Linked DNA regions of Homo sapiens: region 1 is linked to region 2. Evidence: fine-mapped expression QTL. A gene starts in region 2. The other region holds a variant in brackets. All regions are shown on one strand. Distances are from middle to middle.

Evidence for each region. PIP is the estimated chance that this variant, and not a neighbour inherited with it, causes the effect. A credible set is the group of variants that fine-mapping cannot tell apart.
Region 1: its variant is the best candidate, but not a certain one, in a credible set for the expression of DPF2 in whole blood (INTERVAL, PIP 0.67).

What each region holds. Positions count from the first base shown.
Region 1 is chr11:65,214,612-65,219,770 of GRCh38, reverse strand. It overlaps the pseudogene SLC22A20P. Among named protein-coding and RNA genes, the nearest start is that of CAPN1, 35 kb to the right of the region's middle. RefSeq lists enhancers at 1,932-2,495, 2,496-3,059, 5,087-5,159. The variant A/G (reference allele first, on the strand shown) is at 2,457.
Region 2 is chr11:65,330,908-65,336,066 of GRCh38, reverse strand. DPF2 (double PHD fingers 2) reads right to left here and starts at 2,215. Exons shown (of 11, transcript NM_006268.5): 1 at 2,149-2,215. The coding sequence starts at 2,180. RefSeq lists a silencer at 1,774-1,863 and an enhancer at 1,914-1,963.

The sequences.
Region 1 (5,159 bases), 120 kb after region 2:
CTCCGGTGGCTCTTGTCTCATTCAGAGACAAAGCTGAAGTCCTAGAACGCTGGACACAGGGTCCTGCAGAACTGCCCTCCCCGACCTCACCTGTCGCCCACCTCCCAACTCTGCTTCAGCCACAGGGCCCTCCTTGCTCTTCACCCTGGGCACACTTTCCCCTGCAGGGCCTCTGCCTGGCAGTTCCCTCTGCCTGGAATGTTCTACCCCAGAAACCTGCAGGGCTCATTCCCTCAACTCCTTCCAGTTTTGCTCAAAATGACCCCTTTTCAGTGAGTCTTTCCCAAACCACGCTAATTAAAACTGCAGACCCCTCCCCTCCAACCTGGCCATTCTTTGTGGGATTTTTTGTTTGTTTGTTTTGTTGAGGCAGAATCTCACTCCATCACCCAGGCTGGAGTGCAGTGGTGCGATCTCGGCTCACAGCAACCTCCACCTCCCGGGTCAAGCAATTCTCTTGCCTCAGCCTCCCGAGTAGCTGGGATTACAGGCGCCCGCCACCATGCTCGGGCTAATTGTATTTGTAGTAGAGACAGGGTTTCACCATGTTGGCCAGGCTGGTCTCAAACTCCTGACCTCAGGCGATCTGCCCGCCTTGGCCTCCCAAAGTGCTGGGATTACAGGCATGAGTCACTGCGCCTGGCCAACCCGGCCATTCTTATCCCCTTTCCAGGCTTCGGTTTTCCTCTGTAGCACTTACTGTCTTCGAACATACTATACGATTCGTTATGCATGCTGGTGATATCTCGCCTCGCTAGAACATGGACTCCAAGGAGCAGGGCTGTGTTCACCGCAACCTCTAGAGCCTCTCCTGGCACTAGGAGGCTCTCTATCAGGCAGTGGACCAGTGACAGCTTGGTTAAGTGAAAGAATCAAGATACAGAACAGTGTGCGCAGGAACAAACATGAGGGGAGGCATATATGTATGGAGGGTCACCACACTTGTGCGGTGGGACCCGAGGCAGGGCATGGCCTGTGGTGGGAGCTCCAGGGCACTCGATGGAATCTCTACAAAGTCGTCTTTACAGGCGGAGATGTCCCCAGACAGTGCCCGGCCTCTCCAGCCTCAGGAAGTGTTAAGAGGCTGGGCAGTCTCTGATGCGTGTGTATGTGTGTCTGTATGTGTCTGTGTGTGTCTGTATGTGTCTGTGTAGGTGTTAGAGCCCATTCCAGCACGAGGTGGACCTCAGACACCTGTTTCAAGCCATGGCTGGATGCCCACCCTGCAGAGTGAGCTGTGTAGGCTGGGATTGGCTGAGATCCCGCTGTGTGCTGGGAGAGGGAGGGGAGGTCAGGTGTCCTGGTTCTCTGGTCCCAAGATTTCTTCCTGACCCCTGATATAAAAGATCCATCCTGTCTTTGCACAGCTGATGGTGGCAGCAGTTTCCGTGCCCAGTGGTGTCCCCAGGAGCAAGCTAAGTAGTTAAAATGAAACATAGGTAGGTGGCAGGCCTGTGTCCTGGGTGGGCTTCCTTCTGCCCCGTGATGCTTTCTCCTAGGACCACCCAGGGGCTGCCCAGAACCAGCCTAGAGTGAGGACTGAGCCTGCCACTTATCACTTGGGGGCGCAACACTCCAAGCTGGCATCCAGGAGCCAGGTCTCCACCATGAAGCTGAGGAATCACCAGCCTTCATAGAGTCATACAATTTCAGGGCTGGCTGCTGCCCTGGGGACCATCATGGCTCACTCCTCTCCTGTGTCCCAGTGGCCTCTGTGTCCCCACACTAAGCCTGGAGACAATAGGTGCTTAGTAAGTGGTTATTGTTGGCTAATTCACAAATAAAATAAACCTAACCCTCTCAATTTACAGATGAGTACACTAAAGCCCAGACCTGGGAAAGGCCATCCAGGGACTCCCCACCCACAGCCAGCAGGGCCACCACTACCCGGGAGCCCAGGTCCCCCAGGTCCAGAACTCTGGCGGGAGGCTTTGAGTTGAGGTTGCTGGATGAGAATCCCAACAAAACAACATGAGAAAAATGTCCGATGACCCTCGACGTTGCCACCCCCCTGTCCCCCCGCCCCCGCCCTGCTCTTTCAGGAGCCCCCGCCCTTCCTGGCCTCTCCTCGGCTGGACTCACCAGGGAGACGGAGTTGAGGATGATGCCAGAGAAGGTCATGCCCATCAGGAACCGGAAGACGCAATAGGCACTGAAGGAGCTGAAATACGCTGTGGCGGCCCCCGAAGCTGCCAGCTGCAGGTAGGACCAGACCAGGGGGCCCTTGCAGCCCAGCCTGAGTCCAGAGAATGGGCACAGGCATTAGGGTTTTGGGAGGCAGCAGCAGCATCCCCCAAGGAACAAATGGGCAGCCCACGCCTGCCCCTTTCACCCGAGCAGGGGATTATCAAGGCAGTCCCGGGGAAGATGGGGTACCCCGCGAAAGCCACCCTTCCAAAACAGAAACTTGAAACTGCTGGGACCCAGGCTTCGTGGCAGAGGTTGGTCACAGACAG[A/G]GGGACATAGTGTAGAAGGAAGCTGGCGAGGAGATTTAGTCCGGGCTCGAGGAAAGGCAGGGATTCTGCAAAGCCCCAGAGGGGCGTGTGGCAGGTGGGGAGAGGTCACCTGAGCACTGCTGTGGCTGGAGGGAGGCCTCGAACCAGAACTCACAGCGGGTGAGCCCTTGGCCAGTCCCTGGTGTGGGAGCAGGAGCCAGGGTGGAGTCATTATGTGGACCAGAGGGTTGCCATGCCACAGAGGGGCCCAAGGACAGGATGGCAGGGTGATCTGCCCTGTTTGCAAATGAGGGTCCAGGGCCAGAGCGCACAGCCTCAACTTGGCCAGCAGGGAAGCAGGCCAAGAAGACAGGCAGCTTTTCTTCTCCACACACTCCATGACCCACTCGCTTGCTCGCCCACTCACTCACCCACCCACTCACTCACTCGCCCACCCACCAACCCACCCACTCACTTACCCACCCACCCACTCACTCACCCACCCACTCACCCACCCACTCACTCACCCACCCACCCACTCACTCACCCACCCACTCACCCACTCACTCACCCACCCACCCACCCACTCACTCACCCACCCACCCACTCACCCATCCACTCACCCACCCACTCACTCATCCACTCACTCACCGACTCACTCGCTCACTCGCTCACTCACCCACTCACCCACCCACTCACTCACCCACCCACGCACTCACTCACCCACCCACGCACTCACTCACCCACCCACTCACCCACCCACCTACTCACTCATTCACCCACCCACTCACTCACTCACTCACCGACTCACTCGCTCACTCATGCACTCACTCACTCACCCACCGAGCCACCCACCCACTCACCCACTCACTCACCCACCCACCCACCCACTCATTCACCCACCCACTCACCCACCCACCCACTCACCCACCCACCCACTCATCCACTCACTCACTGACTCACTTGCTCACTCGCTCGCTCACCCACTCACGCACCCACTCACTCACTCACTCATCCACTCACCCACCCACCCACCCACTCACTTATCCATTCACCCACCCACTCACTCACTCATCCACTCACTCACTGACTCACTCGCTCACCCGCTCGCTCACCCACTCACTCACCCACCCACTCACTCATCCACTCACTCGCTCACTCGCTCGATCACCCACTCATCACCCACCCACTCACTCATCCACTCACTCACTCGCCCACTCACTCATCCGCCCACTCACCCACCCACCCACTCACTCACCCACCCACTCACTCGCCCACTCACTCATCCACCCACTCACTCTCCCACTCACTCACCCACTCACTCATCCGCCCACTCACTCGCTCACCCGCTCACTCGCCCACTCACCCGCTTATCCACCCACTCGCTTGCTCACCCGCTCACTCGCTCGCCCACCCGCTCACTCGCTCGCCCACCCGCTCACTCAGTCACTCACCCGCTCACTCGCTCAGTCACCGGCTCACTCACTCACTCACTAGTCCACTCACTCACTCATCTGCCCACTCACTCGCTCGCCCACTCACTCGCCTGCTCACTCACTCACTCACTCGTTTCTTCATTTCTTCATGCATTCTTTCATTCACTCATTCATTGTGACACAATGTTCATTGATCATTAATCACCTCTAAGTGACAGGCCTGAGTTGAGGGTTGGTGACAAACAAGACATTCTGGATAAGACACAAGCTCACATGTAGAAAGACCAGGGTGTATCATGACACGGTGTGATGAGGGCCTGAGGTGTGTGGCACAGGGAGCCATCTACACTCCAGAGTGTGGGGTGGAGTCCGGGAGGGCCCCCCAAACCTGAACTGAGAGAAGAAGGGCAGAGGAGAAGGGAGAGGGGAGAGAGAGCGAAGAGGAGGAAGGGGAAAGAGGTGCAGAGAGAGAGACGTAGGAGCCAACTTCAGAGCCATGAGCTGGCTGCACATCGTCTGTCAATAGGGGTCAGTTAGGTGCAGTGCTCACACCTGTAATCCCAGCACTTTAGGAGGTAGAGGGAGGAGGATTGCTTGAGCCCAGGAGTTCGAGACCAGCCTGGGCAACATAGTGAGACACCCCCCCCCACCCCCACCCCCCGATCTCTACTAAAAATAATTTTTTTTTTATTAGCTGGGTGCGGTGGTGCGTGCCTGTAGTCCCAGCTACTGGGGAGGCTGAAGCAGGAGGATCACTTGAGCTCAGAAGGTTGAAGCTGCAGAGAGCTATGTTTGTACCACTGCCCTACAGCCTGGGTGACAGAGTGAGACCTCACCTCTAAAAAATAACGGGGAACAAGTTAGGGCCCATTCATACAGTGGGATGTAGTGTAAAGACTAGGAGGAATGGGACAGCTCTTTCTGAAGGAATAGGAGAGGCCTCCAAAGCGAAGAAAAAGCCGGGTGCAGGACCACGTGGGGTGTATGCCAGCATTTGCACAAAAAAAGGATGACCAGGCCTGTCACCTCAGCTACTTGGGAGACAGAGGCAGGAGAACTGCTTGACCGTAGAAGTTTGAGACCAGCCTGGCCAACATAGTGAGACCTCATCTCAAAGAAAAAAATGGGGGCACATGAAGAAGAAAACAAATACAAAACAGGAAAAGAAAAATGGGGGAATGGAACATATACACCCACTTGCTTGACTGCATAGAATCATAAAATGTCTCTGGTAAAAGGCATAGAAAGCAGGCTGCCCTCTGGGGATTACTGCAAGGAGGGGCAGAGC
Region 2 (5,159 bases):
CCGAGGCGGGTGAACTCCTGAGGTCAGGAGTTCAAGACCAGCCTGGCCAACATGGTGAAACCCCATCTCTACTAAAAACACAAAAATTAGCCAGGTGTGGTGGTGGGCACCTGTAATCTCAGCTACCCGGGAGGCTGAAGCAGGAGAATTGCTGGAACCCGGGAGGCGGAGGTTGCAGTGAGCCAAGATCGTGCCACTGCATTCCAGCCCGGGCCGACAACAGTGAGACTCTGTCTAAAAAAATAAAAAAAAAGAAAAGATGAGCTAGTGGTCCTGACCTCAATGTACTCAATGTATAACATCAGCTGTCAGAAGACTAGGCACACTATAATCAAGAGAAGTGCCATATCTCCAAATGAACTGGAAGAATAGAAGCCCCTTCTTAAAGGGATAATTCTGTGGGAGTACGTATTAATTGTGATCTGAGGCCCTGTGCAGCTAGAAATGAGGAGGAGAGAGTTGGTTTCTCATTACTGGCATTCAGGAATTAGTGGCTGGTGATGCTCACAATCTCTACAGTTTTTCAAAGAGAAACAAGATGTCACGCTCTGTTTAAATGGGCAACCCCTCACTTATGACACAACTTGAAAGCACTGGCAACCCTATTTCTCTGAGGAAAATCTTCCAACACGAAGAACCTCACTACGTTTAACTCCCAAAACCTAGGCAAGTCTGATACTCCCCCAGTACAATGAGAATCTTCCTTTTTATTTTTGGAGAAACCTGTGTAAAACATCCCCTTACAATGGGATGAGGGAAGTCAACAAAGACGCAGGGAAACAAAGAAAGAACATCTGAGTCAGGAAGGATAACTGGATAAATGGTAGATCAACAGTGTCATTTCTAAATTGAGAAAAATGTCAGCCTGAAGAAAGAGCTGGGGAAACTGGAGTGGGCAGATCAGAGAGAAAGACAATAGCGTTGGGAGGAGGGGTGGCTGAAAGAGACAGCAGGATAGAGCAGAAAGCAACTTAAAAAAAAAAAAAACAAACCACAAGAGGAGGAAAGGCACTTAGCTTAATGGAAGTGGGAAAGCATTCTCAAAGAAAAGGCTTCAGGCAGGAGGGAGAAGCAACTTACTCTTTAAAAAGGCTCTTAGGAAGAGTGGGGCTCAGGCCACGACAAAGACAGATGAGAAGCTGTGAGTCCCTTAGAAGAGTTACCGAACCTTTACCTCGTCATCCAGTCAAAATGCAAAAACCCTGACTGGACAGCTAGACACCACTCAATTTTCCCACCCTTGCACCAAGCCCAACATACCCATTAAAAGAAGCTCTATTCGCCCACCATGCATTAACCCAATCTAAAACTCATTCTGATTCTTCTGTAGGAATAAATCAAGTCCCAAAGCATCTTTAACTCACAGGAAGCAGTTCATAGGCCAGCGTCCATGGCCCCAACAGCTATTAACTTTAACTTTGCTTGAAATCTGACCAGCACAATGGTATCGTATAATAGGAAGAATGCCCACCTAGATGCCCCTTTAGGCTAAGCTGTCCTGAACGGCTTCGGTCCAGTTGCAGGTTTTTGATGGCTGCTACTGGACGGGGCCAAGGCCCACTCCCCTGAAGTTCCTTCCCTTCTGGATCCGCTCCTCGATAAATTCTTCCCAAGAATATTTGTAGTCTTAGGTACCTGCCACCCAAGATCCTCCCAAACATCACGGGGCTGCCTGGAACTGAAACAGCCAGCCCCGCAGTGCACTCCGCAGGGGCCGCCGAGCCTGTTGCTGCAGCGAACGGGACGGGACGGGGCGGGGTGGGCGGCGGGCCAGCCGTAGGGCCGCCCGGGCCTCGGCCCCGCTCCTCCGGACTGAGGCGTCTCGGGAGAGGACCGGGACGGTGAGTCTCGCGTGCAGGCAGGGCGCCATGCTCTGGAAACCGTCAGCCCCGAGGAACGCTGAGGCCACACAGCCCCGCAGGGATGCCGCCCGTCGGGGCTCCAGTGTGCCCCCACCAGGGCCTCCACAAGTTTCCAAAGAAGCGCAACGTCTTCTCCGGAGTCTCCTGTTGCCCTCCCCACCAGGAGTCGCAACATGGCTTTCCCGGGGATGTCCCTCTCTCCGCCTAGTCCCTTCCCCCACCGCCCCCTACTCCCAGGCCCTTTACAAAACCTGCCGCCCTAGGAGAGAAAGAAACGACCACTCACAGCTTCACTACATTCTCCACCACAGCCGCCATCTTCCCTGTTCCTCTGCCTCGGGCCGAGAAGCCCCACAGTCCGCAGCGCGCAGGCGCCGGGACCGCACCGGGGTACCAGGTTCCTTGCCCTCTGCGCAGGCGCCGTCCGGGCGCGCGCACTAGAGCGAGCACTGAAGAAAGAGCTTTACGCCTGTTCGCGGGGGCCGGGTAGGAAATGCGTGGACCCCACGGGAGCCCGACGCGCAGGCGCAACCGGAGATTGGCATGCATCCCGGAGCTCCGGTTCGAGGCTTGCCTCTAATATTTAGAGGAGCAGGAGCCGGGGCCGGGCGCGGTGGCTCACGCCTGTAATCCCAGCACTTTGGGAGGCCGAGGCGGGCGGATCACGAGGTCAGGACATGGAGACCATCCTGGCTAACACGGTGAAACCCCGTCTCTACTAAAAATACAAAAAATTAGCCGGGTGTGGTGGCGAGCGCCTGTAGTCCCAGCTACTCGGGAGGCTGAGGCAGGAGAATGGCGTGAACCCGGGAGGCGGAGTTTGCAGTGAGCCGAGATCGCGCCACTGCACTCCAGCCTGGGCGACAGAGCGAGACTCCTTCTCAATAAATAAATAAATAAATAAAGGAAAAAAAGAAAAAGAAAAAAGATTAGCTGGGCATGGTGGTGCATGCCTGTAATCCCAGCTACTAGGGAGGCTGAGGTGGGAGGATCACTTGAGCCCAGGAGTTTGAGGCTCCAGTGAGCCACTGGAGCCACATCACTGCACTCCAGCCTGGGCAACAGAGCGAGGCTCCATCTCAAGAAAAAAAAAAAAAAAAAGGAAAAAAAATATATATACATATATATATACACATATATATATACACATATATACATATATATATATACACATATATATACATATGTATATATATACATATGTATATATATATATATATATATAAATATAATCACTAAAGCTGAAAATACACATACCCTATGACCCAGCAAAGTCCACTCCTGGATATACACACAAGAAAGCTGTACAAGAAGCTGAGTGCAATGCCTCATGCCTGTAATCCCAGCTACTTGAGAGGGTGAGGTGGGAGAATCACTTGAGCCCAGGGGTTCAAGACCAGCCTGGGCAACATAGCAAGATCCTGTCTCTTAAAAAAAAAAAACAAAAAAAAACAGGCCAGGAGCATTGGTTCACGCTTGTAATACCAGCACTTTGGGAGGCCACGGTGGGCGGATCACGAGGTCAGGAGATCGAGACCGTCCTGGCTAACATGGTGAAACCCCATCTCTACTAAAAATACAAAAACAAAATTAGCCGGGCATGGTGGCGGACGCCTGTAATCCCAGCTACTGGAGAGGCTGAGGTGGGAGAATGGCGTGAACCTGGGAGGCGGAGTTTGCAGTGAGCCAAGATCGCGCCACTGCACTCCAGCCTGGGTGACAGAGCGAGACTCCGTCTCAAAAAAAAAAAAATAAAGCTGTACAAGAATGTTCGTAACAACATTATTTGTTTATATTTATTTATTTATTTATTTTGAGACGGAGTTTTGCTCTTGTCGCTCCTTAACAAATTCTTCCTTCCAGCCCAGGCTAGAGTGCAGTGGCACTATCTCAGCTCACTGCAACCTCCACCTCCTGGGTTCAAGTGATTCTCCTGCCTCAGCTTTCCGAGTAGCTGGGATTACAGGTGCCCCCAGCTAATTTTTGTATTTTTTGTAGAGACAGAGTTTTACCACGTTGGCCAGGTTGGTCTCGAACTCCTGACCTCATGTGTTCCGCCCGCCTAGGCTTTCAAGTGCTGGGATTACAGGCATGAGCTACCACGCCTGGCCAGCTGATGTAACCTTTTCTTAAACAATCCTAAAAGAACTGAAAGCTATTGATGCTGGGTTCATAAGCTGCCTTTCCAATTATATGCAGCTAGCCTATTTATTATTAGTACTATTTTTAAATTCAAACTTTTAATTGAAATATACATAAAGAGAAGCACATAGATCTTATGTAGCTTGACTAATTTTTTTTTTTTTTTTTTTGAGACGGAGTTTCCCTCTTGTTGCCCAGGCTGGAGTGCAATGGCGTGATCTCGGCTCACTGCAACCTCCGCCTTCCGGGTTCATAGCTTGACTAATTTTTTTCAATTTTTTAATTTTTGTGGGTACATCGTAGGTGTATATATTTATGGGTACACGAGATGGTTTGATGCAGGTATACCATGCAAAATAATTGTAGCTTGATTGATCTTTACAAAATAGACAAACCTGTGTAACCACTACCCAGATGAAGAAAAAGACATCACTAGCACCTCAGTAGCCATCTCATGCTTCTAGCCCTAAAGATTAGTGTGTCTGTGTAACTGTATGTCAATGGAATCATACAATATGTCCTATTTTGAATTTGGCTTCTTTTGTTCAATATTAATTTTTTCCTTTTTTTTTTCAGCCCCCACAATGCTTTGTCTACAGTATTACATTTTTGAGATTTTTTTTTTTTTTAAGACAGGGTCTTACTTTGTCATCCAGGCTGAGTGCAGTCGTGTAATCATGGCTCATTGCAGCTTCGACCTCCCAGGCTTAAGTAATTCTCCCACCTCAGCTTCTCGAGTAGCTGAGACTACAGGCACACCACTACACCCTGACTAATCTTTTTTTTTTTTTTTTTAAGACAGCGTCAGCCAGGCATGGTGGCTCATGCCTGTAATCCTAGCACTTTGGTAGGCCGAGGCGGGTGGATCATGAGGTCAGGAGTTCGAGACCAGCCTGACCAACATGGTGAAACCCCGTCTCTACTAAAAATACAAAAAAATTAGCTGGGCGTGGTGGTGTGCGCCTGTAATCTCAGCTACTTGGGAGGCTGAGGCAGAAGCATTGCTTGAACCCAGGAGGCGGAGGTTGTGGTGAGCTGAGATTGTGCCGTTGCACTCCAGCCTGGACAATAGAGCAAAACTCCGTCTCAAAAAAAAAAAGACAGTGTCTCAAAAAAAAAAAAAAAAAATCTCAGTGGCACAATCTTGGCTCACTG